Linked DNA regions of Homo sapiens. The protein of the gene in region 1 interacts with the protein of each later gene in a pairwise test. Each region holds a gene or a part of one and is shown in the gene's direction. Other genes may lie near its edges.

Region 1 (3,646 bases):
CTGCCACACAGGATCCCGAAGGCAAGCCGAAGAAGACACACATCCAAGACAACCATGACGGCACGTATACAGTGGCCTACGTGCCAGACGTGACAGGTCGCTACACCATCCTCATCAAGTACGGTGGTGACGAGATCCCCTTCTCCCCGTACCGCGTGCGTGCCGTGCCCACCGGGGACGCCAGCAAGTGCACTGTCACAGGTGAGCCCGCCCGCTGTTGGCCGCTGCGGCGCTCGGCACGGGGCTTGGGTTGTGCCTGTGTGCAAGGGCTCGCTGCTTGGGGCGGCGTGTGGGAGTGGGGGCCGCCCCCTTGAGTGACTCACCTGACCTTTCTCCTTGCTCTCTGCCCTCTCACCTCAGTGTCAATCGGAGGTCACGGGCTAGGTAAGCTGCTTGCTGGGGCCACTCCCAATGCCCCTCCTGCCCAGAGGGGCAGCTTCCTTTCCTCTTGGGGCCGATTCCCAGGACAGTTCCAGCTGCAGCTCTAGGCAGGGACAGAGTTGGGTGGGGTGCAGAAGATGAGGCCGTGGGCTGGAGGGCGAGGGCCCAGGGAGGCTTCCGGAGCTGAGCATGACCGCTCCAGCTCTTCCCCTCTCTGGGCCTTTATTTCCCCATCTGAGAACTCGGGTTGCAGCTGAGAGCTTTGGGGTGAGGTGCATCCTGAGAGGCACCCCACTGGGGACTTTGGGGTCTCGGGATCTTGGCACCCAGGGAGGCACAAGGGCTCCTGCGTGGGCTGAGGGAACAAGGGGTCTCCCCAACTCAATGGGAGCCCCAGCCCTGGCCAGATCCACAGACCCCCATCCCCACCTTCCAGGGGCCTCTGCGTCCCGGGCCGGGGGAGGTGCATGAGCGGGTGGGGCTGGCTGGTAGTGCAGTAGCGCCAGTGTCGACTGCTTGGGCGGCCAGCATGGCGGGGCCCGGCCCAGCCTCAGAGCCCCAAAGTGCATTCTGTGGCCCGTCTCCCTCCTTCCCCCTTCCCCTATCCCCCAGCAGTGACGTTATTCAGACATTCCCCAACAGGCATGGAGGGTCACCTGCCCCAGCCAGGGACACCCAGGGATGCTGATGAGAGGCTACAGGCCTGGCACTTGGGCGAGGTGGCTAAGGAAAGGGTGAGAGGGTGGCTAGAGTTTTGCGGCAGGAGCGAGATGGCTTTATAGAGCAGGCCGTAGGATCCGATGTGTGTGTGACAGGCGTGTGTGCGCAGGGCGGGGGAGGCTGGGGAGTACTGATTGCAGGGCCTTGGGGGCTTTGAGGGTGGGAGCAAGACTCAGTAACCTCAGTTTCCCTGGCTACTGTTTGCAGAATGGAGACAGGGAGCCCGGGGTGGGGAAGGGGGCGCTGAAGTTGCTCTCTGGCAAGCTTGACGGCCACGGGGCTTCAGTGAGAGCCAAATTAGGAGGCATACTTTGAGGATGGAGTGGCTGAGACCTGCGGTTGGCTGGGAGCCGGGCAGGGAAAGTGGGGGCAGTCGGGTACCTGTGAGGTTGGGGCCCAAGCCACTAACTAGATGGCATGGGGTGCACATGAGTGAAGCCTCCCAGGGCAGCGTGGGCAGCCGGCAGCCAGGTCTGGAGCCTGGGAGAGCTGCCTGGCCGCGGCAGGCCAGCATGGAGCCTAGTGCAGCAGGAGCCCTCGGCCGATAGTGGGACTTGGTGGCAGGGCCCCTCGAGCTTGGCCTTCAAGTAGGTTTCGTGCTCCTGGCTGCTTCCCTGGCAGGAGGCCAGGCTGCAGGGGGCACTCTCACTGCCAGGCCTCACAGCCCACAGCCCCCCAAGCCTCCACGGCGGAGACCCAGATCATAACGTCACTGTCTCTCCCCTTTCCTCGGGCACTCTGGGGCCCTGGAGCCTGCTCAGCTGCTCTGCCCTCGCAACCCAGCAGTGGTGGCTGTAGCTTGGGCCTCCTGTTCCCTGTCTCCCTGGGTGCTATCCCCGCTCTGCCAAGCCTGCTGCGCTGCGCTACTCGGGTGCTAACCCCGCTGCCTCCCGCTTCCCCGCTCCCACTCCTGTCTGCACCGGGCTGCTTTTCACCGCGAGCCTTCTCAGTTGTCAGGAAACTCCGGTTTCACCATCAGGCCTGGGGGGTGGGGAGGCAAGTGTCACATCCCCCCACGCTGCAGCAGGACTCCGCCTCACCGCGTCCACACACAGCAATGGGGGCCGGGGCCAGGCCAGAAGGGCGCAGGCAGCCGTGTGCCCAGCCAGATGCTGGCGTTCAGCAGTGTGGGCCATGGTGCTGGACGAGGCTGAGTAGGCAAGGGAGTGGCTGTCAACACTTAGGCTGGAGTGGGCCCTTCCTTTTCCTCCCAGGCACCTGGGTGCTACTGTCGGGCCTCTCCCACATGGGCACTTGAGGTGGTCAGGAGAAACCTTCCTGCCTTCTGAGAAACCACTCGCCATCCCAGCTTGGAGGGGCAGGGCGGGGCAGGAGGCCTGGCGGCCTGGCTGTGCTTGGTGGTGGCAATGAGAGGCCTGTGTGGGCGGCAGGCGGACGGGAACAACCTGAACCCGAGCTCACACGCTGGCCCCCCTTTGGGGACCCACCCTGCCCCACCAGGTGCTGGCATCGGCCCCACCATTCAGATTGGGGAGGAGACGGTGATCACTGTGGACACTAAGGCGGCAGGCAAAGGCAAAGTGACGTGCACCGTGTGCACGCCTGATGGCTCAGAGGTGGATGTGGACGTGGTGGAGAATGAGGACGGCACTTTCGACATCTTCTACACGGCCCCCCAGCCGGGCAAATACGTCATCTGTGTGCGCTTTGGTGGCGAGCACGTGCCCAACAGCCCCTTCCAAGTGACGGTGAGGAGGGGTGGGGGGTAGGTCAGCAGGGGTGTCTGGCAGGTCCCGGCCTGTTCCCCTGGGGCCCCTCTGTGACAACAGACTCTCCAGCAGCTCTCTGCTTTGCCCTGCAGGCTCTGGCTGGGGACCAGCCCTCGGTGCAGCCCCCTCTACGGTCTCAGCAGCTGGCCCCACAGTACACCTACGCCCAGGGCGGCCAGCAGACTTGGGTACGGCCTGGCCAGCTAGGGACACTGGGGCTAGCCAGCTGGGTGTTCTGTGAGCCCCTAGTTTACCATGTGTGAGGAGGGACCCCAGATCCTCCCACTGTCCCTCACCCATGCCCTGTGTCTCCACTGCAGGCCCCGGAGAGGCCCCTGGTGGGTGTCAATGGGCTGGATGTGACCAGCCTGAGGCCCTTTGACCTTGTCATCCCCTTCACCATCAAGAAGGGCGAGATCACAGGTGAGTGGGGACTTGGGAAGGAGCTCGGGAGCCAAGGAGGCCAGACTGTGCCAATGAGCTGCCCTGACCTCAGCCCCACTGCCCCACAGGGGAGGTTCGGATGCCCTCAGGCAAGGTGGCGCAGCCCACCATCACTGACAACAAAGACGGCACCGTGACCGTGCGGTATGCACCCAGCGAGGCTGGCCTGCACGAGATGGACATCCGCTATGACAACATGCACATCCCAGGTGGGCCTGCCCTGCCTCTGCCCACTCCACCGCCACCACCTCACAGAGAGATGGGGCTGGGGGACACACGAGGCTGCCATTCCACAAGGCCCTTCTTCCTGCCTCAGGAAGCCCCTTGCAGTTCTATGTGGATTACGTCAACTGTGGCCATGTCACTGCCTA
Region 2 (3,746 bases), on another chromosome or scaffold:
TTTCCCAAGGCCACATATCTGTCAATGGAAGACCCAGGAATCCAACCTAGAAGTCTTCCCCAGAGCCACTTTTAACTATCCTACTGCACCATCTCACCCTATCCTATCACAGTTCTACCTGGGTGGGAGGTTGAAGGCCTGAACTGAGATCATAGAGGTGAATATTTGCTTGTATTTGCATAAAGAAATACCATAATAAAAGTGGTCACCTATAGAGGGCAATGTCAGGGTCAAGGGACAGATAACGAGTAGAAGGGGGTAACACATCTCAATGTATGCCTTTTAATATGGTCATTTTCTTGCCAATATGAATATGTTATTTATTCAAAAAACAAGATGACACAAAAGAAATGGTACAAGTTAAAAGCTAATTTCAAGGAACAAATGGAAGTGCATAAGAGCTGGATGGGTTTGGAAGACAAATTAAACAGGCAACACAAACAAAGCAAACCCTGGAGTTTCTCAGTTGAGTGTTTGGAAGATGGTAGCTCATTAGCCTAGTTGGGGAAAACAGGAGAGTGGGTTTGAGGGTGGCCATAACACATTCAGCCTTGTTTGTAGGTGACAGTGGGCATTTGGATGTTGAGGTTGAGCATGATAACCCAGGTGGGGTGTTGACTGAGGAGATTCTTATGAAGATGGTAATAGACTCTGTGAGTAGATGGTAACCTTAAGGAGAGAGTAGAGAAGGAGAAAACAAGAGAGCAGATGACAGAGTTTAAAGAAATCTGCACTAAAGGGACTGCCCCAGAGAAGCTAAGATGGAGACTGTGAAGCCTTGGTCAAGGGCCAGGTTGGAGAGATGAGTACAGGAAACAGAGGGAGCACAGAGTTTCCGGAGGAGGGGAATGATTTCCTGGGGTCTCATAGGTTAGGACTGAGACAGGTTTGGGGACCAGAATGCTGAGCTTCTGGAGGAAAAGAGACATATCAAAGATACTGAGTGAGACCGTCCAACTGAGGGGCCCCTTTTGGGACATCCAAGGCCCTTTCTCCCAGTTCTGTAAGAGATAACAAGCAAGGTGGACACTGTCTTCAGTCCCTACATGTCAGCCAGTGTAGATGTTCTGTTTTTCAGGGAGGTGTTTTTAGACAACATACACCAGCACCTGAGGGGTTAAAAAGGAAACTGAGGCAGACAATCCTAGAAAGCTTCTCTGATTTTTTTCTGTCATCACCCATTCAGGATAATGGGAACTTATAATTTGATGTTTTTGTTTTTCATTCTTCCGTTCTGTCTTTCCATCACACACATCAATGCAAACACAATTTCACATACACATGCACACAGACTCACACACACACACACCAGGCAAAAATGCACAAGCATTTTTCTGGATAAGACTCATTACTGCACGCTGGGAGGGAGGGTGAGCAGAGCCGAGGAAAGGAAAGAGAGATGCAAGCCACCCTAGCTACTTTTACTCCCCTTTAAGGCTGCGTGGTTACGGTCCTGGGAAAGAAAACTCCTGCATTCCTCCCCTTTAATTGGGTTTATTGTTAAAGCACTGGAGCAGCTAATCCTCACAGACCTGTAGGAGCTGGAGTGGGAGCTCAAGCAGGATTCTTCCCGAGTCCCTGGGTAAGACAACCCTGCTTCTTTTCTTGGCTTTAGAGGGTCTCCTTGCTTAATGGGAAGCGTGCAGCACCTAGTGAGTGGATTTGAAGAGCCACTTTGTAAGCAACTTGGGCATTTATTTCAGCCCCAGTTCCAGTCTTCCCTGACTCTTTTGGCATCAAGGGTGAGTTATAGCTGTCTTGGAAAATAAGTCTGAATGGGGGGTCCGGGTGGAGCTATCTGTCCGTCACTCCTGGGCTGGCTTTCATGGAAGCATTTTGCCCTTCTGGGCAGGGAAAAGGGAGAAAAATATCTTCATGTGCCCCTCCTGCAATGCCTGCATTCTAGGGACAAGGCTCTGTGCCTAGAGGGACCCCGTCCATCTGCTGGGGTGTTAGGACCTCCAACTCTCTTGCACCCCTCCCTCCTGCTCAACCTTCATCTCTTAACCTCTCTGACCCCATCCATCAAATAAAGTATGCCCTCTCTGCCGACCTCTTTGGGTTATTGGGAGGATTAGCAGAACCAATGGCAAAAAGATTTGTAAACAGCCTGTGGCTCTGCAAGCCTAAGGAAGACGAGTCAGCCTCAGTCCCTCCTGGAGGAGTCTGTGGACAGGCTTCAGGCTCCCTATCCTCAGCCGCGTTAAGATGCAGAACGCAGCCGAGCTATCGCTGTCAGTCACAAGACAGCTTCCTTCACCTTCCCCAGGGGCGCGTCTACCTCCCTTCTGTTTTTAAACTTCCCTAGTTTACCTCTCAAGTGAAGATCTTAAAAGGAGGTCTGGATTCACCACCACCACCACCCCCATCCACACCATGGCCCCTTCTCTCCACGTAACTTTGACGCACAAACATTAACCCTGAGGCTCCCGGAGATGGCTGCCAGGGCTCACGCTGGTCTGGCTGCAGTGCTTGTCTGGCCAGCCTCTTGCTCTGGAGTCAGATAAATTGATCATGAGGAAAGCCTCTGAGAAGGGTCAAGAGAGTCAAGCAGATTCCGCCTTAGGTAAGAAGATGATCTTTTCCAGATCATAAGCTGAAGACAGAACAAGGTCCCTGTCATTCCTGCTGACCCAAGCTTAACCAGAACCAAAGATGAGACCCACCTCTGAAACAGGCCGTAACACAGAGTGCTTAGTAATACCTGATATGGGGACCACACTTTACAGTTTATAATGTGTTTATAATTAATCATCTTTAGGACGATCCCATCAGATGGTGTGGCATGTATTATTTCCCCTTTAGTATAGATGAGACCATTGAAGCTTAGAAGTTAAAGGGTTTGCCTGGGGTTGCAAAGCTGGTGATGGTGGTGGCAACTGAACCCAGATCTATTGATAAATTCAGTGAACTTTCCACGATGCTGCAGATTGCTCTGGTGTGTGTGTGTGTGTGGATGCTTATTAAGAGCACTCTTCAGAAAGTACTCTTTGGGAAAGAAGCTTGAGGTTAGAGTGAGAAATGGTTTGAGCTGGAACCATGAGAGGCTTGGGGCAATAGACATGCTGTCCCCAGCCTCCATGCTGAGAAATCTGAGTGCTTTAGGGATTCAGCCCTTTCAAGATTGTCCGAGCCATGTGTTCCCAGGGTAATCAGTCAGACGTTAGGATTGCATTACAGCATCATAAGGATGAAGGTGGAGATGAGTGACATCCCAGCAACTGCCACCAGGAAAGAGGCAACAGGTTATGTGGTACAGTGACGAGAAGACTAGCGTTGGAATCCAATTCAGTTGTATCATTCACTATCTGTTTGATGTGGGGGATTTTTCTGAACATTTCTACTTATCAGTACCTCAGCTGTAAAATGAGGTTACCTGGAAAGGTGGCCGTGGGGCATTAAACAAGATAATGCATGCAAAGTGCCTAGCGCGGTGCCCCACCCAGGTGCGTGGTCCAGGGCAGCGAATACTATAAAGCCTGGGAGCGATTCTACCTGGAAGTGAAAAAGCATCCCCCTCTAAGAGGAGAGCGCCTCCCTCGCTCCCTCTCCCCCATACACACGCACACAGGGCCAGAAATAAATTGCCACACGAGTGCGCGCGAGTGGCGGCGCCCAGCCGCAGCCTGCCAGCGCCAGCGAGTGAATGAGCTGCAGCATGAATGAGGGGAGCGGCTGAGTCTGCAAACAGGCTGCGTGCCTGGCGCTACAACTGCAGGCGCGCCGCCACGGTCAATGGCGAGGGG

The links. Proteins that work in one complex are often made in the same cells at the same time.
Region 2: the proteins of FLNA (region 1) and CAMK1G interact in binary tests that used the Homo sapiens proteins (3 or more experiments, as listed by UniProt).

Annotation. Positions count from the first base shown.
Region 1 is NC_000023.11:154,353,989-154,357,634, reverse strand, and holds part of FLNA (filamin-A), read left to right. Parts: intron 1-11; coding exon 12-201; intron 202-360; coding exon 361-384; intron 385-2,562; coding exon 2,563-2,810; intron 2,811-2,923; coding exon 2,924-3,019; intron 3,020-3,151; coding exon 3,152-3,254; intron 3,255-3,343; coding exon 3,344-3,484; intron 3,485-3,591; coding exon 3,592-3,646. UniProt on the Homo sapiens protein: Promotes orthogonal branching of actin filaments and links actin filaments to membrane glycoproteins. Anchors various transmembrane proteins to the actin cytoskeleton and serves as a scaffold for a wide range of cytoplasmic signaling proteins.
Region 2 is NC_000001.11:209,582,191-209,585,936, forward strand, and holds the start of CAMK1G (calcium/calmodulin-dependent protein kinase type 1G), read left to right. Parts: upstream 1-1,523; 5' UTR 1,524-1,582; exon of another isoform or gene 1,583-1,742; intron 1,743-3,746. UniProt on the Homo sapiens protein: Calcium/calmodulin-dependent protein kinase belonging to a proposed calcium-triggered signaling cascade. In vitro phosphorylates transcription factor CREB1.